Homo sapiens: one gene and its partner. The protein of the gene in region 2 purifies or fractionates together with the protein of the main gene of each other region. This does not show direct contact. Each region holds a gene or a part of one and is shown on either strand. Other genes may lie near its edges. The genes, in order: CDK17 and TDRD7.

Region 1 (16,618 bases), on a different chromosome or scaffold from region 2:
TATATAGAAAGTAAAATGATATAGTTGCTATGGAAAATAGTATGGTGGTTCCTCAAAAAATTAAAAGTAGAATTACTATATGATCCAGCAATTCTACTCCTAGGTATATATCTAAAAGAACTGAAATCAGGCCAATGCAGGAGGACTGCTTGAGCCCAGGAGTCTAAGACCAGCCTGGACAACATGGTGAGACAATGTCTCTTAAAAAGAAAAAGAGAAGGAGAGAGAGATAATTGAAAGCAGGGTCCTGAAAAGGTATTTGTATACCCATGTGCACAACAGCATTATTTACAATAGTCAAAAGGTGGAAGCAAACCAAATGTCCATCAATGGATAAATGGGTAACAGAATGTGGAATATATATTTAATGGAGTATTTTTAGCCTTAAAAAGGAAGGAAATTCTGGCATACACTACAACGTGAATGAACCTTAAAGACATTATGCCAAATGAAGTAAGCCAGTCATGAAAAGACACACACTGCATGATTCTACTCATAAGTGGTACTTAGAACAGTCAAATTTATGGAGACAGAAAGTATTATAGAACAGTGGTTACCAGAAACTGATGGTGGGGGAGGGGAATAGGAAGAAATTGTTAAGTGGGTACAGAGTTTTGGTTTTGCAAGATGAAAAAGATTCTGGAGGTAGATAGATAGTGGTGATGGTTGCATAACAATATAAATGTACTTAATGTCTCACAACTGTACACTTAAATTGGTTAAAATGATAAATTTTATGAGTATTTTACAATATTAAAAATTAATTTTAAAAAGTTATACGAGACATTTTACATAAACTGTTCAAGACAGCAACAGAAATCGGTATATGACTTATTACCACATGAAGAACATAGAAAATAAATGCAACCACAGTTCAGAGGAAGGAACTGCCAACAGAGGCTAGAGTATATTCAGGAAAGGATTTATGAAAAGCTGTATTTTGAACGTTACTAGGAATGAGCCCAAGTTAGAGCACCGGAGTGGGCATTCCAGATGGGTGGACTGGTATGAACACCAAGAGCAAAGGTAGGAAAGTCCACATTATTCCTGAGATATAGTGAGTATGCCATTTTGCTAAAAGGGAACATTTGTGTTGAGAAACAGTCTGAAATAAGTTGGAAAAGGTAGTTTAGAGACATCTTATGGAAATCCTTAAGTATCAGATTGAGGAATTAATTGTACCTTATTCTATAGGTAATGAAGGGGGTGGCAATAACGGTGTCTGAGTAGAAGAGTGTCAGGATCGAAGCGGTGTGTGAGAAAGATGACTACAATATTTTGATTATTACTTTTAGTTCAAGTTAAAGCAGAAAGATTTTGGTGAATATTAAATGATGATAAAATGATAATTTTGTTTTAAATTACTATGTATCAGATACTCTTGAGTGTCTCATAAAGCACTCTTCTGAGTGTTCATTTAATCTTAACATCACCTACAACACTTCAAAGTAGTTATTGTTACTATTCCCATTTCCTTAAATGAGGAAACTGAGGCAAAGGCCAGTAATTTGAATAAAGTTAACACATAGTTCTAAATGGCAGAATTGGTATTTAAACCTAGGTAATCTAATTCCCATGCCAGAACTCATTAATCACTGTTACATTATGGCTCTTTAAAATAATATCTCCTTAAAAGTATATACTTATCAATACATCTTGCATTAACAGTTACATTCTTTCAAAATTATAAATGTCAGTGACATCTGTATATATTTACCACATGTCAATCTGTGTTGAGTACTCCGAGGAACCAAGAAGCACATCAGGTGGCCGGTACCATAGTGTGACAACTTCATTTGAGTAGGTCTTTGTGGGAACTGACTTGGCTCGGGCTAGTCCTTCATAGGGAAAATAAAACAAAGGGTTAAGAAAAAGCTTTAATGGATCTCTCAGACCCTATTCTCACCATGACTCCATTCAAAGGGATGCCTGAAATGGTTAATTCGTAGCTTCTTGAGGCTTCACCACTATTAACTTTATGAATTCGTTGAGTGCATGTGGCCCTAAGTAAGCAAATCCTTACATAGTTGAACTAAACAAGAATTCCACAACCAGAGACTGTGCTTACTTTTATGTTTGAATACACCTGGTGAAGTATTCTGGGTGAATCTAAACTTAAGATGTTTTCCTTCTGTCCATGAATCATGATGACAAAATTATTTCTCAGCTGCAATTAAATTAATCCATAATAGGCCAATGACATTGAGATACACAATTTTACTTCTAACGGCTATGAGCTTTTGTCACCTTTTAACCTGATTCCAACTTTCATTTGCTATACCATTTTTTATCAAAAACTGTAAAGTTATTGGTCCATAATCTCATTGAGATTTACTGACAAATCGACTTAGAGACAATTTCCTTGGAATAAAATTACAGTGCTGTTCTGTACTCCCTTTTTAGGTTGTAAGTTACATGGATCATTCTGGAGTAAGACAGACTTCATTGTCCTTGGATATTATTAATTGCTGTTTACGTCAGGGGTGTCCAATCTTTTAGCTTCCCTGGGCTACAATGGAAGAACTGTCTTAAGCCACACATAAAATACACTAACACTAACAACAGCCATGACCTTTAAAAAAAAAAATCGCAAAAAAATCTCATAATGTTTTAAGAAAGTTTACGAATTTGTGTTGGGCTGCATTCAAAGCCATCCTGGGCCATATATGGCCCATGGGCCATGGGTTGGACAAGCTTGCTGTAAGTGATATAAAACATTTGCCATTCCTTTGCTAATTTAATATGGAATCTATTGATAATCCAGAAATAAAGGCTAGAGTTTACAACTTTATCTCTTGAGTCACTAGTGTGAGAGAGTCGCTATTACCTCGAAGCCTCTAAATTATGATCTGAAGAAGCAACTTTAAAAAATATCTGGAAAATTACAAATTTATTTTGCCAAAACAAGGAAGAATTTATTTTTTAGGCTGAGATTGCTGTTATATATAACTTGGTATATCTGATTAAAATATTAAAGAAAAATGTCACAAAAGAAAAAATCAATTTTACTGAATAAGGTTACAGAAACAATGTCAGAAATTTAATTAGGCAGGACTCATATACTATTTCAGTTCAGTATAATGGTGAAAGGTTATAACTGGAACAATGTTGACATTCCTTCATTTAATTACAAGTTTTACTCTAGCATCTCAACTTGGTGAAGTAAGTCCAACAAATTATTTTCATACCAATTTTGGTAATTAATTAACAAGATGGAGGTAGCTTTCTGACCTCTCTTCTTGATATTAAAAGTGGGTTATAGGAAGGCAAAGGACAGGGCTGCAAACGTGCTTATCCTGTAACATACCATATCAAGGCAAATTACCAGTTATAGTTTCCTCAGTATCCTACTCTCCCACTCCTGAGAGGATTCCGAACTATGGTGTTTGTGTACATGGCCTTCTAGTTCACAATTAGAATTTCAATACTGGTTGGAATGAAATGAAACAATCTCTCCTAAACAAAATTAATTAAATGTGATATGGTATTATTATATAAGCCATTTTCTATCATTAGTGAAAATATCTGTCTATATCACTAGTTCCTAGACTTCTGATTTTCACTGATCGTGGGAAAAGGGTAGAATTTTCAGAGGGACAGAGAACAACTTATAGTATAAATACTCAAAGTTATATGACCCTCCTTCACAAGAAGTCATATTTACTATGCAACCAAAAAAAAAAAAAAAAAGGAAGAAATAGAGACAGAATTGAATATACTATCTCATGGAATAATCAGAATTTCTTGTTGCCTTGTGGGTAAAATTTGCCTGGCTTGCATTGTAGAGGTTGGAAGCAAAATTTAAAGCACTCAGAGTATTCCCTGATAAAAGTAGTTGTTGTTTTTTTCTTCCTCTTTTTGAGACAGGGTCTTGTTCTGTCAACCAGGCTAGAATGAAATGGCTTGATCATGACTCGCTGAAGCCTCAACCTCCCGGGCACAACTGATCCTACCATCTCAGCCTCCCAACTGGCTGGGACTAGAGGTGCACACCGCCACACCTGGCTAATTTTGAAATTTTTTATAGAGGCAGGTTTTTGCCATATTGCCCAGACTGGTCTTGAACTCCTGAGCTCAAGCAATCTGCCTGCTGGGCCTTCCAAAGTGCTGGGATTACAGGTGTCAGCAACCGCACCCAGCCAAAGGTAAATTTTTTATAGTCCTTGACATTCCTTTTGCTTTTTTTTTTTTTTTTTTTTGAGATGAAGTCTCGCTCTGTCATGCAGTGGCATGATCTTGGCTCACTGCAACCTCCGCCTCCCGGGTTCAAGCAATTCTCCTGCCTAAACTTCCCAAATAGCTGGGATTACAGGTGTCCGCCACAATGCCCAGCTAACTTTTCTATTTTGAGTAGAGACAGGGTTTCACCATGTTGGTCAGGCTGGTTTTGAACTCCTGACCTCATCTGATCCACCCGCCTTAGCATCCTGAAGTATTTCTCTTCACTGCCATTCATTTTGGGATTGGGAATAAAGAGCATTACATGCAGGTTAGCAAACAAAGAGAAGGAGAAGGAAAAAGAGTGAAAAGGAAATAGTGGCTGGGGGAAGGAAAGAGAAAGAAAAAAGAGAGAGAGAGTAACAATTATTATAAGGGAAATAACAACATAAACTATGCCCAAGAAGAGACTTTATGAAAGCATATGTAAATAGCATATAATTTGTTATTCAAACACAGGTAACCCACACATTTCCTTTTTAAGGAAGGAAATGCAAAAAGTAATTTACTCTTCAAATGGCAAAGTATTAAACGAGCAAAAGTATAGGAATTTCCAGAATAAACTCACCATTTAATGACAGTGAAGAGTAATACTTGAAACACTCATATTTATTAAATTTAATGAAATACTCCAAACATAAAACTACCATAATCAAAGCCAGGTGTGATGGCTCACACCTGTAATCCCAGCATTTTGGGAGGCCAAGGCAGGCAGATTGCTTGAGGCCAGGAGTTCGAGACCAGCCTGAACAACATGGTGAAACCCCATCTCTACTAAAAATACAAAAATTAGCTGGGCGTGGTGGGCACCCCTGTAATTGCAGCTATTTGGGAGGCTGAGGCACCAGAATCGCTTGAACCCAGAAGGCGAAGGTTGTAGTGAGCTGAGATTGCACCACTAGACTTCAGCCAGGGTGACAGAGCAAGACCCTGTCTCAAAACAAACAACCAAAAAACTACCATAATCATTTATGAAAAAAAATTATGAATTTAGTTATGGAAAACTGCATGGGTTTTTAAAAACTAAGTTCTCTAAGAGTATTCAAACTCTCAGAATGCGGAATACAAAAAATTCAAAGCTGCTCTACAAAGTTCCTTCAATATGAAAAAGTTTACTTTCTAGAAGCAAAAAGAGCATTTAATTTTACTTTCAATTCCCTTAAAACCAGATTAGCTAAAAAAAAAATAGATAAATAGCTACAATTAAATTACTGAGCATATAATAAATACAGAGTAATGGTGGCAGGTATATTAAGGGAACGCCTTTCAGTAGTTGCTTCTAAACTCATTGTTCTCAAGACCCATTTTATACTCTTGAAAATTATCAAAGACCTAAAGAGCTTTTATTTTTGTGGATATATTTACTGATATTTGCCACATTAGAAATTAAAACTTAGCAAATTTTAAAATATTATTTTCTCTTTAAAAACACCACCCTTTATATGCAGCATGTATGACATTTTTATGAAAAACATTTTTTTTATAAAAACAAAACAGTAAGAAGAATGGCCTTCTTTCACATTTTTGTAAATCTCTTTTAAGTCTTGTTTTTGTAGAGATGGGGTCTTGCTATGTTGCCCAGGCTGGTCTTAAACTCCCGGCTTCAAGTGATCCTCTCACCTCAGCCTCATAAGTGCTGGGATTACACCCCTGAGCCACTGTGTCTGGCCTAAAGTCTATTTCAATAGAAGACAACTGGATTCCACATCTGTTTTTGCATTCTGTGTGTCGTGATATGTTGCTTTGATACATATCACAATATGTATCAAAATAGATCAAATATACATATCACAACATACATATATGAAGGAAATCAAATCTCACACAGATATGAGGTTGAAAGAGGAGGGGCATTTTAATAGCCTTTTCTGATAAATGTGAATAGTCTTATTTGACACTACATCAGAACTAGAAAGTAAGTGGTCTCTTAAAAGCTATGTGTTAACAAAACCTATAACGATGAACTTCTCATGCTTTTGTTGCACTAAAATTCATTGACCTTGTACTTTAAATGGGTCTTTTATCCATGCATGATTCTGTAATATCATGCATTAGCCATTTGGAAAACAGTGGATCCCTGGGTTATACATTCCAAATGTTTATACACTTTTTCAGCATATTGAAAAATCGTGTTTGTTAACATCAACATCGATCTCATCAGAAAAGTCTCTAAGTATTGAAAAGCCATCAAACTCAAAGCAGATCCAAATTTCCAAACTCTAATTTTTGCTTGAAAACTTGAATTTTATTATTGGCAAGAAATACTGACAGTTCTTTTCCTTGAAATGATAGGCTTCCTTCATTCACTTTCAGGAAAATGTCTGCCAAACACCTAAGTCTGAATAACCACAGTTTGTCTGTCAGTCATTTAAGTAAAAATGGTGTCCCCTCAAATAACAGGGCTAGTTCAATGTGCACTCAAATAATCACATGAGCACTTTTCCCTGAGAAGTAACCACATTATTTCTGTGTGCAGCAAATGAGTTTTATGTACACTTCCCATTTTATCACATAAAATATTAAAAAGAAATGTAGTCAAGGATGGAAATTAAATATAATTAATAAATTTTATTGCTTCATCATGTAAGTGTAACTGACAGTTTTCCCTTTACGTAAGTGTAGTGGTAAAGAATACAATGACGGCCTGGGCATGGTGGCTCATGCCTGTAATCTCAGCACTTTGGGAGGCCGAGGCGAGTGGACCACCTGAGGTCAGGAGTTCGAGATCAGCCTGACCAACATGGTGGTCACGCTAAAAATACAAAATTAGCCAGGCATGGTGGCGCATGCCTGTAATCCCAGCTACTTGGGAGGCTGAGGCAGGAGAGTCACTTGAACCTGGGAGGCAGAGGTTGCAGTGAGTCAAGATCACACCACTGCACTCCAGCCTGGGCTTTAACAGCAAAATGCTGTCTTCAAAAAAAAAAAAAAAAAAAAAAAAAAAGATATATTTTGGTGCCACTACTTTGATGTATAGTTTTATGCATTATTATTTTGGGACCATCATTGCAAATATTAACACAGTGAAATAGGCAAATAACAGATGGTACAATTTTGGTAATATATTTACATTTAGAGGCCTCCTACAAGGGTCTCAGGAGCCCTAGGGGTCTTTGTCCACACCCAAGAACAGCCTGTGCATTTTAGAATTTGCTGCTAATAACCAACATAAATCACCAACCAAAGTTCTGTCAAATATCTTATTCTGTGGGCTACCGAGAAAATTTCCAAACCCACATAAAAGCAATGGCACATTATGACAGTGGTTGATCTTTTAACCATTACACTTTAGAACCTGGAAGTACTAATAAATATCTCATACATTCCATACCAAAATCTGCTAGCTTTAATTCTCCTTTCTCATTAATGAGGAGGTTCTGTGGTTTCAAGTCTCGATGCAATACCTTTCTTCTATGGCAATATGCCAAACCACGTAGAATTTGGTACAGAAACAGCTACAGAAACAAATAAATAAAAATTAGTCTTAAAGATGAGACATGCTTTAGTATAAGCATAAATGATGGTAAGCAGAAAAGCAGCTGGCCTAGAACATTGTAACAGGAAAAAGAAAGTAATTGCATACTTAAGTACAATGTCTTTTTCCTTTTATATATAGTGGCTTTCTGAATTTAATAGTTTATTATTCTATTTGAAGCATCTACCTATTTCTTTTAGTCTAACAGTATCTATGGAAATATTTTTTAAAAAGTAACTTCCTCCTAGCAGTAACAGTTGATTTACTGTGGAAAATGACTTAAAAAAAAAAACATATCCTCATAAACTTACAGGCCTACTAAGGTTTACATAGTTTAATTATAAAATTCTGGCAAAACAACCAACCAACCCCCCTCCCACCCATCTCTCCTTGAAAAAAAACAAAAACAAAAACTCTGATCTGGGGCAGTGTCTTTAAAATAAGGCACTGGAATTGGCGATTTTATGAAAAGTCTGAGGTATCAAAGAGAAAGCTGCTGCATAGCTCTGGCAAATTACTTACTATAAAACTAACCTAAACCAGCTTCTATCACCCATCTCTTGGGTACTTTACTTTCAGCACCTCCTACTTAGCCTTCAAAATCTACTGTGATTCACAAAGGGGCATTAGCACCGTAGTGTTCTGAATGACTCTGAAAAAAGTAATTCCTATAAGGCTAATGGTAGAGTTTTTGCTGTACATTTTGGTAGAAAGAGGGTTACGGAACACATAAGACCTTTGATTCTCTGGGGTTAACAAAAAGAACCTCAAGTACAGAGGATTCAAGAGTTTCCCCTCAGTTCATCTGTAGGTGAAAAACAGGGCATCCGAACACTGAGGCAGCCAAGGCAGCAGGTCAACGGTATGCCTGAATGAATTCTCTGTGCCAGAGTCTCTCCAGTCTACATAATTATGTTTTTAAAACTCTAAAATTACTATTTAAATGAATTCTTGTTACACTTTGTATTTTGAAAGTATAAAGGCCATTTAAACAAATAAATAATAAAACGCTTTCCAACTTAAGCTAATCATGTAAACCTGGCATTAAAGAAATAAACGTCTCAACATTTGTGAAATTATCATCAAGGACCTTGTTTTATTTTCAAATTATTGCCAATAAAAAAAGCAGGAAAAACAAAATTAAAACCAAAAAAATACAAAATGACAGTTATAACACTTTGCAAACAAAAGATGTAAAATAAGATGAAAACAACCCTGACAGAATATATATGGAAGTACATTTAAAGCCCTTTTTAAAAATCCTTAGCAATGTGTTATCCATATGTTCTGAGCTGTCTTTTAGTAACAGAAACTGGCTCTCCTTTATAACCACCAAACTTAATATTTTTTTAAAATGTAAGTTTAAAATTACTACCTACAGAATTAGAAATGTCTGAAGCACACAGCTGCGACAGCCTATTTTCAGAATAGGTTCTTACATATTGTTGACTAAGTTTGGATAAATAAATCTTTGCTAAATTTGGATACACTACTCAGGTCAAAGAAACCTACTGTAAGAATACAAACTATGCTGGATGCTGTTACTCAGTTAATAACTTTTGGGTATCATCTGGCACTGATTTTATGGCAAACATTTTTAGCATTAAATTTTTAAATATGTTGTTGTAAGAAAACACACCAATTATCTTACTCTTCTTCCTGACAGTACAGATTGGTATTTCCAGCATAGTGTTCATAAAACCTGCATGTTCTGGCCTTATTCATTAGTTCTGAAAAGTTGTTGTTTTACAATTAAATACCATTTATTTGGGGAGTTCACTATTTAAAGAAGGCCTTTCACAGAATGCACCCATCATTCGTGTTTATTTTGAATTTTTTTTTTAAAGCAGAATACACCTGTACATATATTCTATATTAGGACAATCAGTTGTAATGTGAAATGTCAAAAGAATGAAGTGGTTCTACAAAAAGGTCTGATCCTAAGAAAGCTATAGTGTAGTAAACAGAAGTTCTGGGTAAATATTGCACGTTCAGAGGACAATAACCTATTTAAAAGGCCAAACAGAAAACCCTGAAGAAGAGTTATGAGGCTGGTACATTTCATTATATAATGGTTCACCTATGCTTTAAACAAAATTTAAAAATTACACACGCAAGAAAACATACCTTTACGTTGTGCATACTCATGATGTTTCCACAGTCATCCATGTACTGTTTCAGGTCTTTATCCTGGAAAAACACAGCACTCTGCTATGTGATACACCATTTTCAGAATGTTGTGACTGGTTCACTTAATAGTGTTTTTCAAAATTAGTTGTTTTTCAAGAAAAGATACTGGATGCACCATACACATAATTTAATGAAAAACTGATAACTAAATAATAAAGTCTCTTGGGCTGTTAAAAAGTCCAATTTAGCTAAGCACAGCTGCAGTTTAAAGAAAAATAAAAAACAAACTAAAAGTCCAATTTACTATGTTTTTCTAAAGTAAAGTTAAATACTGAATTTTTATGAGATGCTTACCAGATACTCAAACACCAAAGTCAAGGATTTATCTGTGTGAACAATGTCATGTAAGGTTACTATATTTGCATGTTTTAAATCCTTTAATAGTGAAACTGCAAAACAGAAAAAGAAAATTGTTTAGTCTGTGGCAGTCTTTATAAAAACCTGAAGTAAGTTGAACATACGAACTGATTAAAAGATTCTCTTAAGTTTAGGTCTTGGGCGGTGGCTCACCCCTATAATCCCAGCACTTTTGAGAGACCGAGGCAGGCGGATCACTTGAGCCCAGGAGTTCAAGACCAGCCTGGGCAACAATGCTATTTAAAAAAAAAAAAAAAAGATTCTCTTAAGTTTAAAGCAATAATTTACCAAGGGGATTGGTTGTAAAAATGTTCATGGAGGCTGGGCACGGTGGCTCATGCCTGTAATCCCAGCACTTTGGAAGGCCAAGGCGGGCGGATCGTGAGGTCAGGAGATCGCCTGGCTAACATGGTGAAACCCCGTCTCTACTAAAAAATACAAAAAAAAGTTAGCCGGGCGTGATGGCGGACGCCTGTAGTTCCAGCTACTCGGGAGGCTAAGGCAGGAGAATGGCGTGAACCCAGGAGGCGGAGCTTGCAGTGAGCCAAGATCTCGCCACTGCACTCCAGCCTGGGCAACAGAGCCAGACTCCCTCTCAAAAAAAAAAAAAAGTTCATGGAAATCAATTTTTTCTTTTATACTACTGGGTTTGATATTATAATACTTAAAATTGTCCCCAATATTATAACATTCTCCATATCATCTTCTGTATTTTTCCTAAATGTTAACTTTTGAAACTTCTGGCATTAATTTAGATATAAATTACAAGGAACCATTTTTCCCCTCCACATTACTAATCAGTTGCCTCAAGCCATTTTCTGAATAATCTTCTTTATAAAATGGTACTATGATATAAATATGTTTACACACTGTTTTTTAATTTATTTAGTTTATCTGGTTAATTTATAGTTACCATGTTCCTCATGTACCAATGTATAACATTTCCCTATGACAAATAGTTGTCTATGATAGTGATTTTTAATGAATTCAGATTTCATTATAAGTTATACACTAATATAATTAATCCCTTTGAGTATTTGTTTTAGAAATTTGCTTTTTAAAGGTTTAATTACATCTTCCAGTCATTTATTACTTGTATATCTGAGCTCTTTTTACTTATAAAAAATAGACACTTATTCCACCACTTTGATTTTAAAATGTTCTGTATAATTATTATACCTTCTCTTATAGCTGTGCAGGGTGCACCTTCTTCATGTTCCAATCGGATCTCTTTTAATGCCACCAAATTCTCTGTCAATTTACTTCTTCCTTTATATACTGTTGCATATGTACCCTATAAAATATATTTTTAAAGGACGCATCAAAAGTATCATAAGAGTCTATTTAATACCATCTTATAATAAAGAGCTCTACCTGAATTTCTAGTTTCTAAGCATTGTTAAGTTCCATCTTGCAAAGAAAAACACACAATGATCAGCCATGGCTTTTCTTACAGTAAACAGGACTTTCAGTTCATATGCACAGCTTCCATACTTCTGTAACACTACAGAGTGCCTCAAGAGTATAAAAACATAGACAGAATATTTACTTTTTGTACCTTATTTTAGATTAACAATTAGATCAATAGCTTTAAAATCAAAGGTGCTTTACCTGCAATGGTATATGGAGACTGATGGACACTAATTGAACATATTAATTGAAAAATGAAAACATAATGTACATATTGTTAAATGATAAATTTTTTTTTTTTTTTTTTTTGAGATGGAGTTTCATTCTTTCGCCCAGGCTAGAGTGCAGTGGCACAATCTTGGCTTGCTGTAACCTCCACCTTCCGGTTCCAAGCGATTCTCCTGACTCAGCCTCCCGAGTAGCTGGGATTACAGGCGCCCGCCACCACGCCCAGCTAATTTTTGTGTTTTCAGTACAGACGGGGTTTCACCATGTTGGCCAGGCTGGTCTCGAACTCCTGACCTCGTGATTCACCCGCCTTGGCCTCCCAAAATGCTGGGATTACAGGCGTGAGCCACCGCGCCCGGCAATCATAAAAATTTTACCCATGTTTCTAGACTTTTCAGAATCTTTGTACATTAACTCTCCTTTAAAAAACAAGGATCTCTTCTATTATTGCCAGGACAGCCCTCAAGCTCCTTTAAGCCTTCCCTATTAACTATTGTTTTCTTTGCCCTTTCCTACTATAGGAGGTAGGCCATTTCTAAATCAGTAGTACTAGTAGTAAGTTCAAGAAAACCAAGATCTTAAGAATTTCCGTAACCTTCAAAAAATGTGTTTTTATCTTTATTCTGATTTTTCACAGGTCTGAACTCATGCAATTTCCCATGGTGGCACAGACAGTAGACTGGCAGTAGACTAAGTGACAAATGCCTACTTTGTTATTAAGAAAACATAATACTTTCTGCTTCAATAAAAATTTCAAAGCTATAAAAAAAATTCATTTCCTCTCAAACTGATGGGATAATTTCAAGAATTGAAGACTCTAACTCCTAGAAACTCTGTTACCTTTCCAGAACAAGTATATAATCTTGTAGACATCAGTACTTACGTTTTTTCCAGGTTAACAAAAACCGTGGAGTAACAGAGTTTGAATGACGAATAAGAAAAAAATGTGTCTTACATTTTTGAGATATTTACTTACCTCTCCAAGCTTTTCCAATTTGATGTAGGTTTCCATTTTTCCAAAGCCAATTTCTGACTGAAAAGTAAACAATGAAAAATGTAGTATTTACTTTTTTTTTTTTTTTTTGAGACAGCATCGTCTCACTCTGTTGCCCAGGCTGGAGTGCAGCGGCACAATCTTGGCTTACTGCAACCTCCACCTCGCGGGTTCAAGTGATTCTCCTGCCTCAGCCTCCGGAGCAGCTGGGATTACAGGCACGCAGCACCAAGCCCGGCAAATTTTTGCATTTTTAGCAGAGACAGGGTTTCAACACATTGGCCAGGCTGTTCTCGAACTCCTGACCTCAAGTGATCTGCCTGCCTTGGCCTTCCAAAGTGCTGGGATTACAGGCGTAAGCCACCGCGCCCAGCCTTGTATATATTCTTAAAGTTTCAATTCATCTCTTCCTCAACTTCTGAAACTTTCCCACTCTAAAGAATGACTAAGAATAGAAAAATCTGATTATAATCAAATGGTTGAATATCTATCAAGTTTTAAAATAAACCCAATGTTGGAACATTCAAAGGTTCAAAAATATCAAAGTTCACAATCAAAATTGTCAACCCAACCTTTATATATACACAGTTAACATTCTGTCATGAAAAATATTTGGTTTTATTCTAAGATACCACAGGCATTTTAAGATACTAAAGAATCTTATCAAGGATAACTACTTGGGATTTTCTTTTTAACAAAATTGCAAAATAAATAATTTTCCTATGTATTTTCTCCCTCACCAATCTGAATTCCCAAGGAAGTCCTGCAAACAACAAAATACTATTTGTTTCAGGCTTTCCAATCAAAATACAATGAAAAAGACAACTGAAAATCATGCTCTTCTATGGATCAGGAAGTGGCAAACATAGAAGCAGCAATGTAAGTCTAATTCTGGCTACACCCCCCCTCAACACTCGGCCAAAAAAAAAAAAAAAAAACAAACAAACCCACAACAACAAGAGAAAATGCTTTAAAAGTGAGTTCTTAAAAGCCTTGCTTTTAAAACTTGAGCTCGCCTGACTATTGTGTATGGAGATGATAAACAGGGTACATGAAATATACCTAAATATGTAATACAAACACAATATTTAAAATGAAAAAGAAAAAACCTTAACACAAAATTTAGGAAAATTTGTTTTTAGATAGATTGAAAACTAGGGACTGAGAGAGCAGAAATATTTTAAAAAGTAAAACAGAATGGGAAAAGAATTTTCTTAAAGTTGCTTTCTAGTACCCCTTTATAGATAATGGAAAAGGTAATGATAATCTAAAGAAAGATCCACTTGCTTAGAATGGTGCTAATGCCCTTAAATAAAAAGCCAGTTAAAGGAAATAATGTTTTTTAATACATAATCTCAGTTCTCAAAGGTGTATAAATTATGCCAGATGATTAAACGTTGTGATTTAGTCAAACTCTAGAGGTCTAAATACGCAATTTTCCTTGGAACTGTGGAATAAAATTAAAATAATCCTTGGTAATTAGACTTGCATCACTTACCATTTCAGACAATAGGATAAATTATCCAAAGCTGAATGGCCAAAAGTAGCAGAGGCCCCTCAAAATAACTGTTTTTATCTTTTTGTTACAATGATATGTATCATATTAAAAGCCATGTGGAAAACTGCACGTCCAATAGTACTTAATTCAATTTTAGTAAACTAATTAAAACTTTGGTCACAGGTATTATTGAATGAATGAAAAATTATTTTTGCATTCTATGACATTTTCCTATGACGTTTTTCATAAAACATTAAATTTTAAAAATGAAGTTTTACGACCATCATACACTATTCATCCATGTATTGTCTTGAACATGACTCAGTATTAAGTCCTTCGCTTTCTAGTATCAATAACTATGCAAAATAAAGAAGTAAAACTACAATAGATAACATTTTTAAAATACAAGTGAAGTTTTTAAAATCAGTATGAAAAACATGGCAAATAGCCCACTATCTGGTACATGACAGTCTGATTACGAATAATCTTTTAATTTATATATGTTTTATATAGCCTATTTATATATGATCTTAAATACTTTACTCCATAAAAAAGGCTACTTGCCAAGATCACAGAAACTAATAAAATATCTTTATTCTGATACTTATCTCTGGAATTTAGGTGCTTAAATTCATGAATATGGAACTACCGCATTTTTGCCATGAATTTTAAGTTTTGTGTCATCTTTTATGGGGGAAAAAACACTATATTGAGAATAAATGCAAACTAGTATGAACAAAAGAATGAATGTTCCTGAAAAAAATATTTAAAATGTCATTATAACAATGAGAAGCACACGGGAAATAAGACTGTAAGCTAGGCATTTTTTCTTCTCAGGAGTAGAGAAATTTTCTTATTAATCCTTTTATCTTAAATGAATGAATACTACTATGTTCTTAAAACATCAAATACACTAGGGTCCAATGGTTACTATGACAAAATGTCGAGGTTTGCTTTAAAGACTATGTAAATGGACTACAAATTAGACTGTAAAGACAAATATGTAAGAGGTTAAGTTTAAATTTGAATAATCAGTCTATAAAATAAACAACACTACTGAATTCCACCCATGCAGGCAGGCAGGCAGGCAGAGAATTCAGACAAAGGCACAATTACACTAGTGAATTGTCTGTCAGATCCTAATTCAAAAAGTAAAAGCTTAGCCCCCAATTTAGTAATTTCCAACTTAGGATTTAATGATTACATCAAAACAGTACTTACTGAATCTTTAAATAAAATTTTTAGAAAATTTTGCTTGCATTTTTATTTGCTGAACACAACAAGATTAACAATAGATATAATGACTAGCTTGTTGACGTGCTCTCCTACAGAAATTATTCAGAGGACAGAGGACAAAGCTCATTTATTCAACATTTACCCAGCACAATGTTAGGTGCTAGAGAAGACAGACATGATTCCCACTTTCATGAGTTCACAATCTAGCCTGAGTTCCATCCTAGATTATTTTAGAATATTTTAAAAGTTTCACAGAAACAGAAATAATAGCTAAAGAAATAGCACAATAAGCTTTATAATGTGTATGTTGTTGTTCCAGTCTCTGCAGAAACTCAAAAATTGCCAATGCCAACTATAATCACAAGTTGTCATGGTGGGGGTATTTGGGAAAAATTTTCAATTAGCAATAACTGTGCCTTGGATAAACCTCGGGTATGATACTATCACTGCTCAAAGCTTATATTTTCATGTAATATAAGAGCCCCCTTAATGCTGCTTTCCAGACAAATGAAGATAATTTTTTCTGATATTTCACTGTTCCAAGAAAATACTTCACTTTTTGACAGCCCCAAGCAAATTCCTATTCAGATGGCTCTTAGAGTATAAACACATGAAAATTCTAAATATATATATAAATTAAATTATAATTTATAATAGTCTTCCTAGAATTCACTGTAACTTGTAAGCAATACCAAGCCTTATGGGAAACTTTTTGTTTACTTTGGATCTAGCAACATAATTACTCTATCACAGGCTGGAGATGCTGTTCTAGCTGAGCTTCAAAACAAATGAAGCACCAGAGGTCCCCCTTATCCACAGGGGATACTTCTAAGAACACCAGTGGATGCCTGAAACAGCAGACAGCACTGAAACCTGTATGTACTAGGTTTTTCCCTATACATATTAAATACACTCCTAAGATAAAGTTTAATTTATAAATTTTGCAGAGTAAGAGATCAACTAATAAAACAAATAACCATAATAATACACTGTAATAAAAGTTACGTGAATG
Region 2 (17,281 bases):
CTGGTGTGGATTCCAAGACAATGGAACAGCTGGAGATACTCAATAGAAATTCATGGCAGAGACAGAGAACTGCAGAGTCTGCACACCTCCACTACCTCTGAAGTCCACACTCTGAATGAATGCCAGGGAGCAGGAAAGAGGACAGCTTTGGGACCTATACTTCACGGTTGCCAGATGTCAATGCTGAAGTATGAATTTTGGGTCCTGAATAGTAAACTGATGACACGGAAAATAGTTTAACAATGGTTCATGACTCATGAGTCAAAGATCACTGAACTACTATACAGTTATTTCCACAAGTAGTAAAAGCAACAGTGGAGACTGGCCAAGTTTTAATTTGCAAGAGGACATACTAAAGCATCACTTGCTTACTCCTCAGTGCCAATCCACCCTGACTATCCATTTCTGATCTCCACCTTCCCCATCTATGTGCTCTTCTTCCCTTCAAAACCCAATCCCTCCCATCAGTTCATCTAGAGCTCTTCTGAGTGAAACTGGGCTTTGCATCTTTGTATATCCGTATGCCTAAGTGGGCCTTGGCTATCAGCTACATACGCATTACATATAGATATAATGTCAGGTGGTTAGCACACATCCAGGGAAAATATCCATCTGGGTGTGACCAGTGTAAACGACTCAAATTAGACTGTTCAATATATCTGACTCCTCCCTGGCCAGACTACTTTATATTCCCCTGCCAGAGTTTCAGTAAGAAGGCCTTACCCTTTGCCTTAAGAATAGAGTTTCCATGGTATTCTCCTTCCCTTCATTTTGGAAAGAGCATCTGCTCCACTGCCACCTCCCCTCTGTGGTCTACTTTTCTCAGCTACATTAGGAGTGGACAGCAACCATTAATTTATGGGGAAAAAATGTCGGATAAATGCATTTTACTAATGGGTGTCCTGTTACTAAAACCTAACAGAACACTGTGATTCAGGTTTGAAAGGACAGGTCCAGCCCTGTCTTAGAGTCTAATCAGAGGCTTGTTCTACAGGTTGCCCTCTGCGAAAGCCTTCCACTCCTTCCACCCTTGGGAGAACCATTTTAGACCACTGCCCCTGAAATGTCCCTTCTATCTTCCTTATTTCTGCTCTGAAACAGCTGCAAGCAGGGATCTCCCAAAAAGGGCACTTCACAATTTTTTTTTTTAAGGAGCGGCATTCAGGTAGAGTCTTCCTCTTGTCCCCACCCATGACCTGTTTAACGGCCAGAGCAGAGTGAGGTACGAAGCTTTGCCTAATGCTTGCTTCTCTAGTCCCACCCTCTTTAAATGTGTCTTCTCCTTTATATAGCAGATGTCTCGTGACCTCCATCCTAATTGTTCTATCCTTTGCCCCGAGACTCTTGGAAGAAAATTAAATAAAATACCAGTGTGAATCTGCACGGCACAGAAGTGCTCATCCTTATTTTTCACTTTTCCCACCCTATCCAACCTCACATTTACCCACCTTGATTTCTTGGCATTGTCAGACTGTTTTTTCTAAGTTATATTTCTCAATCTGACCTGAGAAAAGCTTATGCCACACACATACTTCCTACTTTCACTCCCCCTTTATTTTTCCCCCAGATAGAGTCTTGCTCTGTCACCCAGGCTGGAGGGCAGTGGCGTGATCTCCGCTCACTGCAACCTCTGCCTCCTAGGTTGAAGCAATTCTCCTGCCTCAGCCTCTTGAATAGCTGGGATTCCAGGCACCCATCACCATGCCTGGCTACTTTTTGTATTTTTAGTAGGGACGGGGTTTCACCATGTTGGCCAGGCTGGTCTTGAACTCCTGACCTCACGATCCACCTGCCTTGGCCTCCCAAAGTGCTGGGATTACAGGTGTGAGCCACCGTGCCTGGCCTTTCACCCCCTTTTTAATGCACATATTATCACAGTTAAAATCTACTTTAAAATATTTCAATAGTAAAGTTGCTAACACCTGGCCATTGATATATTTTGATTTGGTTTTGGGGGAAGGGCAGGGGATTGCAGAAGATTATGCCTGAGCCTCCTTTTACTTGTGTTCCGCAAGTTTAATGCCACTGCTCACTCATTTTCCTGGGATAAGCCCCTTCTCCTGGATCTCATTCTCTTTATCTGTAAGATGAGTGAGGTCAGTATTAGTTCTCAATCCTCCCCCAAGCAATGTGATACATAAAGATGGAAGGCGGATGTCTACAATTCCTTCACTCTTCACCACTTCCATGGCAGTTGTCCTAGTCCGTGTCAGCAACATCTCTTTCCTGGAGCAGAGCAGCTGGGCTCTTAGCTGGTCTCTCTGCTTCCACTTCACCTCCTAGAATCTGTTCTCCACATATCAGCCTGAGTGATCTTTTCATATAATATATACTATTATATCACGTCACTCAAAACCCTCTAATGCTTCCTGTGTTAACTCAGACAAAAAGCCAAGTCCTTACAGAGCCAAAAAGGGCCCTGCATAACCTGCAACCCCCACTTCTTTGCCCTAAGTTCTCTCTTCTCTTTATTTTCATTCACCCATCCTGGGCTCCATGCTTTTCCTTGAACATGCCTGAGATGGCCTCACAACAGGGCTTTTGTACTTGCCATTCTCTCTACCTGGGACATATTGACTCCAGGGGCACATGTGGCTCACAGCCTTACCTCCTTCAGCTAAAGTACGTGCTCAACTGTCACCTCCACAGTAAGGCCTTCTCTGGCCACCCTATTCAAAATCAAAACTGAGATGCCAGCTTCCCTGATTTTCTCCTTAGCACTTATCACCATCCAATATTCTTCTCCATTTAATGGTTTTATCTTTCTCCCCAACTTCAATGCAAGCTCCATGAAAGCAAGGATTTGTGTCTGTTTTGTTCATTGCTGAATCCCTAGTGCCTAGCCCACCGAGAGCTCAATAAATATTTGTTGAATGAATAAGAAATTCTCCATCCACCTACCACTCCTTTTCTCTCCTACTCACTAAAATACAGCATAACATAGGTGAGCTATTAAAGGCATAACTCTGAATCCAATTTAAGTTACTAAAAAATTATCTGCAAATGTTAACAATTCTTATAAACTGAATGAGACAGCCAATCGCAACACCAAACTGTGGTTGAGAATCATCAAGTAGATTATTTCTGAGCATGTCCACTCTGAGCCAGATTAGGCCCTGTCAGGGCCGCAGCATGATTGCAAGGAGCCCACACATCCTGACAAGCAGCAGGCACGGCTTGAATATTAGTAAATGTCTCACATGTACTTATAGTCCTGTTTTTCAGAGTGTGCAGATATTATTGGGATCCATAAACACAAACTGATATTAAATTCACAACAGCTTTTGGTAGTTATATGTTTAATTGACCAATGGATACTGCAAGCACAACTACTAGTGTATGAGGTTTCACGAAATTTTTCTAAAGCTACAAAAAATGGCCTCATACTTGAGGAGACTGAGAATCAACGCTTGACCACATGGTTGCAATCTGTAAATTAAGTTCCCTCCCCCTGCCTGCCTTTTTAAAGTATGCTATCTTTCATGGAGGACTATAACTCTCTATTTGCAAACAACTTTTTGAAGGGAAGGGGAATCCCTTGGAGTATAAGACTGTGGGTCTCCAAGCTGGTGAGAAGCAGTTAAATGCAGTAAAACCTGGAAGGCTAAATGTGATTGTATTCAAATGCACGACTTGCCAGTCTGATTTCAATTCCCACATTAGCAACATCACTTCAGGCAGTGAACGAAAAAGAAAGTGTAAGCTTTAAAAAAAATCGTCATTATTTTCTAAACTATATCACTTTGGAAATGCTCTGAGTTTTGTTACGTGGCTCATGATGACTTTTTTTTGAAACTTTCGGAAGATGGCAATTATACTCTCAAGGTATATAAGAATACTTTGTTCTAACTATAAAAATAAAGTTTAATATCTTAGACATCATCCATTAGAAGCATAAAAGAAAGTATATCATAGGAATTTCAACTGGAGTGCAGTGGCGCAATCTTGGCTCACTGCAACCTCCGCCTGCCGGGTTCAAGTGATTCTCCCGCCTCAGCCTCCTGAGTAGCTGAGACTATCTTTTTTATGCTTTCGTGCTTTCCTTTTTTTCTTCGCTTATACCCAGTTAATCTTAATTATCCAAGACACTAATAATGCACATGAGGTGGGGTGGGGAGTTGGGGAGTGATGACAATCTTTAGGGAAACAAAATTTAAATAATTTAAGTGGCCTAAAATAATTCTCACTCTACTTCAAAACTGCATTTTGTAAATTCACAGCTTTTCTCTTTACTATACCTGAAAATGGCCCAAGGAAGTCCTATTCTGAAGAACCTGGTTTTGGTGTATCCCAGATAAACGCCTTCTACCATTGATTGATCCTCCCTGGCTCAGTCATTTGCATGTTATCTGCTTCCTCTAACTACTGGTGTCAAAGGCCTTTAGCTGAGCTAGTCTGGCTTCCATCCTATGCCTTCTCTTTTCTAAGTTTCTTCTTGCTCAACTATTTCCAACTGTATGATTTGGCTCATCTTCCTTACTACATTTTTCATGTCATCAGTTTAAGTTGTCGAGTGGCACTAAATCTTAAAACAAATCAGAAGAATTATTAGGGTAAACTGAAAACACCAAGTAATCTCTCTTAGCTTCTTTTAGTTAGATGTTCAATTTTGAAGTATCTGGATATCTCTTTAGGGCATATACTTCTAATAACTAACTGCCCTTCTCCTTGAAGACACTATTTTAGCAACAGCGGGAACTTAAAGTCCCATAATGTCTGTGCTGACACATTTTAGGCATCGTCTAGGCTAACCCAAGCTCCTTATCTTACAAATCAATAAACTGAGCCTCAGAGGGAAAATTTTTTCCTAAGATCTTTACCCAATAAATGATTTCTCACCTTGCGACACTTTTAAATGCTCTTTTCTTTCTAATCATAGTCTGTTACCACTTCAATTACTCCTTCACCAACCGGTTTTTAAAGGAAAAAGATGATTAATACCCTCAGATGATGGTATACTTCCTTAAGAGTTTTTTTCAGGGAGTTATCTTTTTTATTCTTGTGATCTCAAGTTCCAAATTATTCGTGCATTTTAACTGCATACCACGAATGTACGTAAGTAAGGGATTTCCATAAGTCTACATACTAGACGAAAAAACCCTGAGATAATAAAGTGGCTTAGTAAGGAGTTTGTGTCTTAATCCTAGTTCCGCTACTGATTACCTGTGACAAGTCACTTCAGGTCTCTTTTTTTCACAAGGAAGATAAGAAAGGTGGGCAAGAGCCATGATTCTCAACTTTCCTTGGATTCACTGAAGGCTGAAATAAGGTCCAAATATGTAATGAAAACCGAGTTTGCTTACTCATGACAAAGCTGCACAGGCTAAAATGCCAAGCTTACTTTGAAGTCACACTGGGTAGCTTGCACTGATCAAGTTCTGATTGGCATATATACATGTCTTCAACTAAAAATTGCAAAATTAATTACTTTTAGTTTGAAAGACAAAACTGTAAACATATTTGGCTTACAGGGAAATAATGACAAGAATGAAGCTTTCAAAAGTACAGAGGTGGGAGTGGAGGGAGGAAAAAGCAGGTTTGGCACAAAGAAACAACAGTTCACGTAAATATAAAATTTCACCAAGGAACTTCTGTGAAAGTGTCCAGATGCAAAGCACTCTATGTCAAATCTCAATTCTTGAAAACAGCACTTGACAAACACAAATTAGGCACTCGGGGTTGGATTATATTTTTTCTTTATATTCACATTAAGTATCCAGCTAGATTATATTGCACAGAGAACTTAAAAGAGGGGTTCTGCAAGGAGTTTAAAATCTCTTGATGCACAATACAATAGTTCATTCAGCCATGTTCAACCTGTACACTTAAAAGGGCATTAGCAGGGGATTACACTTCATTTTCAATCTACAGAGACTGAAATCTGAAGGCACTGCCAACTGCTGCCTCACAGTCTCACCGTGCAACTACCAAAGACGGAGGCTGTGTGCCACCAAAGGGCCCTGGATTGGGGCACAGGAGATGTGAGTGCTAATCCAGCTGGCCCCAGGGGCAATTCCCTATACCCAGAACAGTACTTTGCACGTAACTGATGCTCAATGAATGTCAGCTGAGAGGAAATGCAAAAATATCCACCATGTGCCCATTTATATTATATAGTAAACACAAAGATCTTTGTGTCCCTGCCCTCAAAAAACTAAAATCCAATTATGTAAAACATGGACCGTTTGTTGGGAGGAAGAGAGTGAATACTGCTTGGCAATTATTATGAGGCAAAGGATATACAGTGGTTATCTTGGAAAAGCCTTGCAAAGTAAGCCAGGTACCTCTATTTGACACATAGAAAACCAGGCTAAGAGAAAGCATGTAATTTGTTCAAGATCACACAATTTGTAAAATGAGAAGCCCAGATTTCAATCCAGGTCTGCAAAGTTCACATTATTTGCAGTATGCAACACATTCATACACATCAAGGCAGCCCAGGACGAGACAGGGATTTGGGTCCAAGTTTTACTTCTGCTATTAAGCTGTTGCCTATCTCTCTAGAGAGAACATTTCTCTGCATTTTTTTCACCGGCACGATTGGAGAGCAGAGAGGTGTTGGTAGGAGGGTTAATGAACTAGATCTGTGGTTTTTTGGTTTGGTTTGGTTTGGATGGGCGGTGATCAGAATTCTTCTGGGCCAGGACTTGTTCTAATGTGGTTGTTTCCCTTCCCTGCTCTTAGAAATTATTTGAGAATGGTACCTTTAGCTATTAATGGAAATATACCTCTCAAGTGAATGGGAGCAGAAAGATATGCCGGCTCCAAGCTCCCTCCTAGCAAGCTGAAGCTGAGAGTCTGACCCTGCTGAGGGGATGCTACTGAAAGTTGAGAGACAACTTACTCACGGATCCATGTTTCCCTCCCAGCTGGGTGCTCTGTACCCACTGGGTGCTCCTCGTTTGAGAGAAATGGGGATGTGTGTCCTGCATTACTTAAGCGGCCTGCCTGGGGCTCGTCTCCAGATTATAGAGACCTTCAAGAGAAGTTCGTGGTGTAAAATACTTGGGTTCAAATAGGGGAGCGCGGACATCCCTCGCTGGGGGCGGCGGCTGCGGCCTGTCGCGCCGGTAGCGGGAACCACTTCCTGGTCCGCATCTCCCGCCCGCGTCCACACCCCGCTGCTGCATTTCCCCCACGGCGCAGAGCTTCCGAGGCGGCAGGAGGCTCCGTCCGACTCCCGCGTGAACGCCCGGCCCGGAGCAGGGTCCCTTCAGAGATTTAAAACACAACGCTCTGGAACTCCAACTCCCCCGGCGCCCAGCCCGGTTCCCAGGCGTCGGGGCGGGGGCAATCCCCTGCGGCTGCAGGGAAAAGGCCCCGAGCCTGTTGGAGCCCCCGGCCCTGGCCGCGGTCCCACCGGTGACCCAGGTGCGCCGCGCCCGCCCGAAATCTCGTCCGACGTCGCCCGGCACCTGTCGCGCCCGGAGCCCGCAGGACCTGCACTCACCTCGTTCCGGGGGCCCACGGCCCGTCCCCGCGTCTCTGGGCCCAGCTCCTGCCGCCGTCTCCGCCAGGGGCCCCGCCGCGGCCGCCGCCCACTTTCGGTTTCCCCGCACCACCGGAGCCGCCCCGCGGCTTGGGAATCACCTCAAGCCCCCGCCCCGCCCTGCTCGGCCCCGCCCCGCTTCGCCCCGCCCCGCTTCGAGGGCAGCCTGGCCTCGGCTCTGCGCACGCGCGGGCGCTCCGGCCGCGTCGGCCCACGCCGGCGTCCGCGCGTGGGAAGGGAAACCGTCGCCACCTAGCGGTTTCTGCGCGTGCCCACGCACCGGCCGGCGGCGGAAGACGCCTGCGGGGCGGGTGCGGGAGCGCCTCCTGGTGGACAACGCAGGTACGCGCGGGCCGAGCGAGCCGGGACTCAGCAGGGGGCGAGGGTGGCTCCTTCTATGGGGCTCACCCTCCTTCCAAACAGTTCAACTCCTGCACATTATTTTCTTCAACATCTGGAGCAGTTACTTTTTATTGCCCTAGACACACACTCTGTCCGCCCATATCCTTCAGGCCTTTCTCAAGCATTACCCTTTCAATGACGGTGGACACAGTCTCTAACATGTCAACCTCCTTCCTTGACTTTCCCTATCCCCATTCTCAACCTTATTTCTCCTTAGCACCTATCTAGCACACTATATGTATTTTACTTATGCTTTTATTGTCTGCTATCCTTCTAAAATTAAAGCTCTGTGAGCACAAGGATTTTTGTTTGGTTCCTTAACCTATTCCCAGAGCCTAGGATAGTGCCTAGCACACGATCAGCAATAAATATCTGTCAAATTTATTCATTCACTCTAAAGTTATTGAACACCTAATAAGTGAATACTTATTTATTCTGCACATTAATTCCACCAACACTTATTGGCACCTGCTTTGCATCCCTGCAGCCAACATTGAACACTTCTCTGCACCATTGGATATGCATTTACTGAGAACCTGCTGCTTATTCAACCGGTATTTTATTACAGCTTGACTGCCATGTATAAGACATACAATAAACTGAACGTTTAAAATGTACAGCTTGATAAATTATGCATTTACTGAGAACCTGCTGCTTATTCAACCGGTATTTTATTACAGCTTGACTGCCATGTATAAGACATACAATAAACTGAACGTTTAAAATGTACAGCTTGATAAATTATGCATTTACTGAGAACCTGCTGCTTATTCAACCGGTATTTTATTACAGCTTGACTGCCATGTATAAGACATACAATAAACTGAATGTTTAAAATGTACAGTTTGATAAGTTTTGATATATATATATCACTGTGAGACCATCACTGCAATCAAAATCATGAACATATCCATCACCCAAAAAAGTTTTACTGTGATCCTTTGTAATTCTTATATCTTGTCCCTCCCTGTCACTTGCCCCCTCAACTGCTCACCTGCTTTCTGTTGCTATAGATTATTTTGCTTTTTCTAGAGTTATATGTAAAACTTTTATGTATGGAATCGTATGTACTATCCTTTGGGGGGCTGCCTGGCTTCTTTTATTTAGCAAATTATGTTCATCCATGTTGTTACATGTATCAATAGTTCATGTCTTTCTATTGCTGAATGGTATTGTAGGGATGTACCAAACCTACCACGCAACCCAGCAATTCTGCTCCTGGGTATTTACCCAGGAGAAATGAAAGCAGATGTCCACACAAAAACCTGTACAAGAGTGCTCATGGCAGTTGTGTTGGCCGTAGCCCCACATGGAAAGAATACAAACATCCGTCAGAAGGTGAATGGACAATCAACTAATATATATTGAACACCTGCTGTTAAATAACAAATTTTCATGGATAAGCCTGTGCTTATAGAGCTTTTGATTCAGTGAAAAGATGCAGTAGGCAATACAAAGAAAAATTGGAAGTAAATCTGGAAAACCTGATATCCAGCTCTCAGACACTTGGATGTTTCCCCAAAGGCGGTAGGGAATTGTTCAGAGTTTTTGAACAGGGCTTTTCTTTGAACACTGTTCTCTTTCATATCCTAGATCTGGTCCCTGACTAAGTTTGCCTAAATGTCTCTCTCTGGAATTTCTCTGCATCTCCTTTGCTCTATTTCAGTCTATTTCAGATGTCTTTCTGTTCTTTCCCTTCCAGTCTACTCCAAACATTGCAGTGGATTTTTAATAGACTTTGCTATGGTCTGAATGTTTGTGTCCCTACAAAATTCATGTTGAAACCTAATCCCCATTCTTGCGGTGTTGAGAGGTGGGACCTTTGAGAAGTCATGATGGCTTCGTCCTTGTGAATAGAATTAGTGCCCTTAGGGGCTTAAGGGAGCCTTCTGCCCCTTCCACTGTGTAAGGATTCAGCAAGAAGGTGCCATCTTTGAAGAGGAGAGCAAGTCCTCACAGGATGCCAAATCTGCTGGCACCTTGATCTTAGACTTCCAAACCTCCAGAACTGTAAGAAAAAAATTTCTATTATTTATAAATTATCCAGTCTAAGATATTTTGTTATAGCAGCAGGAATGGACCAAGACAGACCTAAAAGACAACCAGCCCCAATTTGGTCTCTGCAGTACTCACAACATCCTGTGGCTCCACATTTTAGAAGGGAAAGATGTAAAAAGCAGCTGCCAAAGGAAAGAGTGCTAGTAGTAGCAGGAAATAAAAAAAAATTTCAGAGTCTAATATGTAGAATAAATCATAAAATAATGTGAGTTGAACCCAAGTTTGAGATCCTTTATCCTTGCAAAGATGTTCCATGTTTAGACTGCCCTATATGTAAAGAAAAATGAAGCTCTGCAGCTAGTTTTTTTTAAACCAGCTTTTTTGATAGTTGACATATAATACATATTTAAATGTACAGTGTGATGAGTTTTGACCAACGTCTTTAATTGTGTACCTACCACCACAATCAACATATGGGATTAGTTCATAATTCCAAAACTTCTCCTGTGCCCCTTTACAGTTAATTCTCTCCCCATACCTTTATCCACTAGCAGCTACTGATCTGATTTTTGTCATCATAGGTTTGCCTTTTCTAGCATATCATATAAGTGGAATCATGCAGGATGTCATCTTTTGTGTCTGGCTTCATCACTTAGCATGATGGTTTTGAAAGTCATCCATGTTGTTGCACATAGTGGTAGTCGGTTCCTTTTTAGTGCTGAATAGTAAGCCATTGCATGGCTTTATCACAATTTGTTTATTCATTCACATTTCATGCACATTTGTGTTGTTTCCAGTTTGGGCTGTTATAAATAAAGCTGTAATAACAGCCATATGCAGGTCTTTGTGTGGTGATGTGGTTTTTTGGCATAAAGACTTAAGTATAGAACATCTGGTTGTGGGATAGGTGTACGCTTAACGTTTTAAGAAACCGTCAAACTGTTTTCTAATGTGGCTGTGCCATTTTGTACTCCCACTTTTACTCTCTCCTTGGTAATGTGTAAGACTTCCAGTTGCTCTAAATCTTCTCCAATACTTGGTATTGCCTGTCTTTCTAATTTTAGCCATTCCAGTGGATGTATAGGGATAGCACACCGAGGTGTCAATTTGCATTTCCCCAGGACTAATGATGTTGAGCATCTCTTCATGTGTTTATTGGCCCTTCATATGTGTTCTTGGGTAAAGTGTCTGTTCTGCAGGTAGATTTTTGTCCAAGACATCAGGAGGTTCTCAGAATTGCCTGGGTATCTGACAGAGCAAGGGCAGATTAGAACGTTGTTTTTTTTGTTTGTTTGTCTTTGTGAAGTGGTCCAAGACCCAGGGAGTTCAAGAATTCACCCCCATACCCTGGATATAATTGGATTTCAGGAGAATTAAGAGATATCAGAGATGGAACAGACTGGTTACTCCGTAGGCACAATGGTTCTTACCCTTTTGTGGCGAAGTCAGAATAGATGAAAGCAAATTTTGATGTATGATTTCAGAGAGGATATAGAGTCCTTAAAGCTCCACTGTGAACCCACGTTAAAAATTTCCTTAGAGGAAAGCATATATCCTGGGGCCAAATAGCAGAGTTTTTGAAATGAACAGGACTCAGATGGAAGGCATTCTTCCTCTGCAAATGCCCAAGCATATCTTTGGACAACAAGGGCAGTGGCCAGGAGCATCTAGATCTCTTTTAAGAGAGGCAGGCATAATTTCCCATCCTCAAGGGCTGTAGAGAGGTCCTTGGTACTCTGCTTAATGTGGTTTTTAGGGTAGGAAAGGTAGATGGAAGGGGAAATTAGTAAAAGCTGGCCACTAAGCAGAAGGCTGGCAGGTCATTGTGCCTGTCCAGAGACAAGAGAGAGGTTATCGTGGGAAGGGAGTGCAAATCAAGGCCCAAGTATGGGGAAGGAAGACAGCTTTGTTGGTAGCTTATCCTTGGCAGAGAAAGATGGACATATTTCCAGTGTGAAACCTCCATCCAAAGCCCTTCATGCATTTTGTCCACACCTGAGGAGCCTATATATTTGGAGAGAGTCACATTGGATACAAACACCAAAATGCCTGTACAAAGCAGGCAGGACCAATACTATTGGTTGAGTTGAATCTCTGTCCTTCCTCTTTTTCATCTCTCATCAGCAAGCACCATTTAGAATGAGGGTGAGACAGCAAGCATGGTCCAGGAACATGTCTGTAGTTCATTTTTTTTTTTCTTATCTGATAGTTCTTTTGGTCTTAGCAATATAGCCCAAGAACAATACATTCCTCATCCTTTCTCTAAGAGCCTGTCAGACTTTACAACCACCATAGGCAGCTTTGTCACTTGCAAAATTTAGAGCAACAACTTGATAGACCTCTAGGTGCTGTCATCTCACTTCCCTTCCTCTCTATATTGACTCCTAAAAGAAAGCAAAAACCAAAAACAAAACTTTCATTTCTATCAGTTTATGACCCATCAAATGAACAGCGGGGACTTGGTAATAACATTATTCAATGTCTGGAGTAGTTCCTCTCTCAGGAAGCCTTCCTCGAATCCCCCACCTGACAATCATTGTTCCTTTAGCTGAGCTTCTAGACTGCTTTGTTCCTTAAATATATTTATAGCAGAGAGAACATAACAAGTGATTTTATATCTCATCTCCCTTGTGAACAACTTGAAAAGAGTTTACATTTTATTCATCTTTGGTTGCTGAGTTATTTGATTGCAAATAATTTTAACAATACCCCTATTTGAAACTAAACTACAGCATGTTTGAAATTATGTATACAGATGGAACCCAGCCACATGAGTACTTTTTGCTTACATAAGGTCAGGAAAAATAGATCCACGACAAAAGGAATCTTTGGACAGATCTACTTTTGGTTAATCATTAACACCATAATCACTGCCTCTCCCATCAGCTTTAATTGCCTCATGAACAAATGCAGAGGAATTTCTAGACAACTGCATTTGTTTCAACTGAGTAAGGAGAAAAGACAAAACAAAACAAAACAAAAAACAAAAGGCAGAGATTGCCGGAGCCCTGCTAAAATCCAGGCCCCGGTAAAGCTAAGGATGTGCTGATCAAGCAAAACCCCCTAATCTGCCCACAAAGCCCTCCAAGGTGAGTCAGCTGAAAGGGCCTAATCCCCAGAAGGGACTGATCACTAAAGCTTTAGAGGCCACACAGCCACAGCACACTGGAAAACAGGGGATAATGAAAGCTTAAAGGGATATTGTGTAGAGAAAGGTCATAGAACCAACAGAGGAGGGTCTTGGCTGTCTAAGAGGTCACCTTTGCCCTCTCCTGACTTGTAGTTCATTCATATAGCTCAGTCTTAGGACCCCAAAATAAGAATGATTCCAAGGATGTGGATATCGTTAAGAGTTAGCTGGCTTAGGGCCCCCGCTGTGGGGTGGGGTGTGGAGGTGAGGTAACTAATATTTTAAGCAAGGCAATCAACCACAATATGACTGATTTTGTAATAGTCAATAAACCAGATGGCACAAGAATTATACTGCAATAGCTGCTAGTGGTGAGGAATTGGGGAGGCAGTGAGGAGAAACTACATGGGTGCAGAGGAGGTGCTCAGTATAGGTGAGCTGACACTGAAAGAAGCAGACAGTATTCGAGAAGTGTGGGCTCCGATTAGAAGTGTACTATACAGGAAGAATCACTACCCGTTAGTTGCTTGCCCTGGATCATTTAGGACTTGACCTTTCGTTAAATTGGGAGGTTGCATAGAACTCCAGAGCCCTTTGGCTCTGGTTCTAGCCTTGGATTCCCTTATGTGGCAAAGTGAACACAGAAAGTAGTGAAAGAGGCTTCTCTTGGGGCTGTTTGGTCAATTTCTATTCATCAGTGGTTATCTATGGGAAATAACCACTCCCCATAGATACTCAACCACTCTTGAGACAGTGGGCTCTGCCCCAGTCCAAGCCCCCTGCCCCCAAGCCTGGGGCACGTTGTTTTGTACTTTTATGAGGTTATTTTTGGTTGTCAAAAAGATCAGGTGCACCTCCTGGCATTGAGTGGGTGGGGCTGGGATGCTTGTGGTACTTCCCCCATATCAGAGAAGTTCCCCTTGTCTCAACCAACATGTGGATGTCATGCCAGTCATCTATGTAGATGACAGACCTCTGCCTTATATATAAACACAAATAATTTTCCCCACAGTTTTACTATACAGTGAATTTTCCAATGCTATTTTTATCTGTGAATTTCACTTTAGGAAAGTAAATGAAGGGATTACAAAATATTTGTCATAAAACGGGGGTGCCAGGTCAGATAATACTGCTACTCGAAATCCCCCAACAGCCAACTCCACCCAGAGAGAAGCTGAGCAGGATATTCTTGTTTACACCAGTAGACATAGGGATACACAAATTTATCTTTACTAGATAAAATTACCTCACTTGCCCTAGTGCTCAGACCAGTTGAGGAAGTTAGAATCATTCTTTTTGGGGGTCTTTCTGGAGTTTACTTAGCCCCAAATTGTATTTCCCCTACCATAGGTACAAGAGATAGTCTTCTTCATCTTCCTCCCAATTCTCCCTCATCGCCTCACACAGTCTTTTTCATTTAAAACTGGACTCCTCACTCTCAGCAGCAACTTCCTTAAGACTGGATTTTTATATTTATAATTAGAAAAGTATAGCACCTGGGGGCTAGCAGTTGGCTAAGGAGGGCTAGCAAGCTGCTGGCTGGAGTAAGACAGTGCAGGAGATTTCCTCTAACGATGTGGTTCTTAATCTGAGAGTGATATGGTGTGTCAGCACTAACATGGTATTTTCCTTCCTTTGTACACTACAGGTTGAACTATAAGCTCACTTGTAAATATCACGGTAATTATGGGAGCTTTATTTACAAAGCTGTGTGTGTGTGTGTGTGTGTGTGTGTGTGTGTGTGTATGTGTGCATCCTTAGGAGTGGCGGCCCACATTCCTGGTGTGACTTGCTAGAGCTAGGGTAAGCAATAAGGACTTTGTCCTTCAAATATTAGGTTTTGTGTTCTGAGTGCTGATTTCTGCTTTTGATTTTTCAGGGGCCAGCACAGAGGCTGACAGCCATTGTTTCAACCTCCATGAGCTGAACCTCCAGGAAGCAGCTTCCTGGGGATTTAAAGAGACAATACTTGTGCTCCCACCCCCATGTCTTTTGGGAACCAGACATTTAAGGAAATCTTTGTCGGGTCACTGGTTGATTACAGAAATGATGGAACAGAAACTTTAGTGACCACAAACAACAATATATATCTTGCAAAAATAGTTTTAAAAAGTCATAAATAGATGACCCAGTCCTCATAAAGTACAAGAAATCTCTGAGGTATTGAAGAATTAGATATCCAGTTAGTGCAACATGGTATTTAAAATTTCTAGCTCTCAACAAACAATTACAAAACATACAAAAAAAGAGGAAAACATGGTCCATTCACAGAAAAAAAGAAGTTTACAGAAATCTTTTCTAAGAAAGACCAGACATTGGAATTATTAGTCAATGGCATTAAGTCAACTGCCTTAAATATGTTTAATGAGATAAGGAAAACCATAAACCAAGAACTAAAAGGAATCAGTAGAATTATATATGAACAAAGAAAGAATATCAATTAATAAATAGAAATAAAAAAGAACTAAACTGAAATTCTGGAGGTGAAAACTGTAATAACTGAAATGAAAAATTAACTAGAGGCATTCAACAGCAGGTTTGAGCAAGTGGAAAAAAGTGTCTATGAACTTGAAGACGGGGCAATTGAAATTATCCAGTCTGGGGAGCACAAAGACAAAAGAATAAGTAAAAGTGAACAGAGGCTAAGGGCCCTGTAGGACACCATCAAGTGAATCAAATTTACAATATGAGAGTTTCAGAAAGAGTAGAGAGAGTTGGGAAAGAAAGAACATCTGACGAAATAATGACTGGCAAATGTCCCAAATTCGATGAAAGAAATGAATCTACAGATCCGAGAAACTCAACAAACCTCCAAGGATAAACTCAACAAACTCCTAGGATAAACTCAAAGAGCTTCACCCCAAGACATATTATAATCAAAGTGTCAAAAGTCAGAGACAAAGAGAATCTTGAAAACAGAAAAAGAGAAATGATTAGTCACACACAAGGACTCCTCAATAAGATTAAGAGCTGCTTTCTCATCAGAAACCATGGAGACCAGCAGGCAGTGGAATGAAAAAGTGCTGAAAGAAAAAACTCAAGGAAGAATTCTCTCTCTGGCAAAACTATCTTTCAAAAATGAAGGATAAATTAAGACATTCACAGATAAAATCTGAGAACATTCACTGCCAGTAGACCTGCTCTCACAAGAAATGCTAATGGGAGTCCTTGGGGGCTGAAATGAGAGGACACTGGACAGCAAATTGAAGCCATATGAAGAAATAAAGATCTCTAGTAAAGATAACTGCATAGATTAATATAAAAACAGTATTGTTGCATTTTTGGTTTGTAACTATTTCCTATGCAGTTCAAAAGACAAATACATGAAAAGTAATTATAAATCTTTTAACAGGCATACATGTAAAATGTGTAATTTATGGCCAGGCACAGTGGCTCATGCCTGTAATCCCAGCCCTTTGGGAGGCCAAGGTTGAGCGACCACTTGAAGCCAAGAATTCAAGATCAGCCTGTGCAATGTAGAGAGACCCCATATCTAAAAAAAAAAAAAAAATTAAATTAAAAAAAAATAGCCAGGCATAGTGGCACATGCCTGTAGTCTCAGCTACTCAGGAGGCTGAGGTGTGAGGATTGCTTGAGCCCAGGAGTTTGAGGGTGCAGTGATCTATGATCACACCACTGCACTCCAGCCTGGGTGAACAGGCAAGACCCTGTCTCAAGGGAAAAAAAGATATTAATTGTGATAACAGCAACATAAAGGTAGGAGGGGATGAACCGTATAGGAGCAGAATTTTTGTGTGCTGTTGAAGCTAAGTTGGTATTAATTCAAACTAGACTGTTATAAATTTAGGATGCTACAGTGGACAGAATGTTTATTTTTTTTTTTTGTAGAGACAAGGTCTTATTATGTTGCTTAGGCTGGTCTCAAACCCCTGACCTCAAGCAATCCTCCCACCTCAGCCTCCTAAAGTGTTAGGATTACAGATGTGCGCCACCAGGCCTGGCTTGAAGTTATTTTTATCAAGATCAATTTTTTATGTAAATGACTTGATATTTTGGGGATCCACATCATAATTTACTGACTGTAGATTCTGCTATTGTAAGCTTTCTTTAGGGATTATTATTCCTACCAAGTCAATTTTCCTTGGTCAAATTATGCATATCAAAATGTTAAATATACTTTTCTTCCATCAATTTTCAGTCAATGATAAATTTTACCACGTGCAGTTTTAACCATTATCAGTTTTTGCTATAGACTGTTTGTGTCCCCCCAGATTCCTGTTTTGAAACCTGTCCCCCAGTAT

What was found.
Region 1: the proteins of TDRD7 (region 2) and CDK17 purify together in Homo sapiens (affinity purification with mass spectrometry; 3 studies listed by BioGRID and IntAct, with this or other methods). This does not show direct contact.

What each region holds. Positions count from the first base shown.
Region 1 is NC_000012.12:96,287,450-96,304,067, forward strand, and holds part of CDK17 (cyclin-dependent kinase 17), read right to left. Parts: intron 12,912-16,618; coding exon 12,855-12,911; intron 11,535-12,854; coding exon 11,420-11,534; intron 10,273-11,419; coding exon 10,178-10,272; intron 9,884-10,177; coding exon 9,821-9,883; intron 7,674-9,820; coding exon 7,550-7,673; intron 1,839-7,549; coding exon 1,718-1,838; intron 1-1,717. UniProt on the Homo sapiens protein: May play a role in terminally differentiated neurons. Has a Ser/Thr-phosphorylating activity for histone H1.
Region 2 is NC_000009.12:97,402,408-97,419,688, reverse strand, and holds the start of TDRD7 (tudor domain-containing protein 7), read right to left. Parts: upstream 7,594-17,281; 5' UTR 7,451-7,593; intron 6,929-7,450; exon of another isoform or gene 6,845-6,928; intron 1-6,844. UniProt on the Homo sapiens protein: Component of specific cytoplasmic RNA granules involved in post-transcriptional regulation of specific genes: probably acts by binding to specific mRNAs and regulating their translation.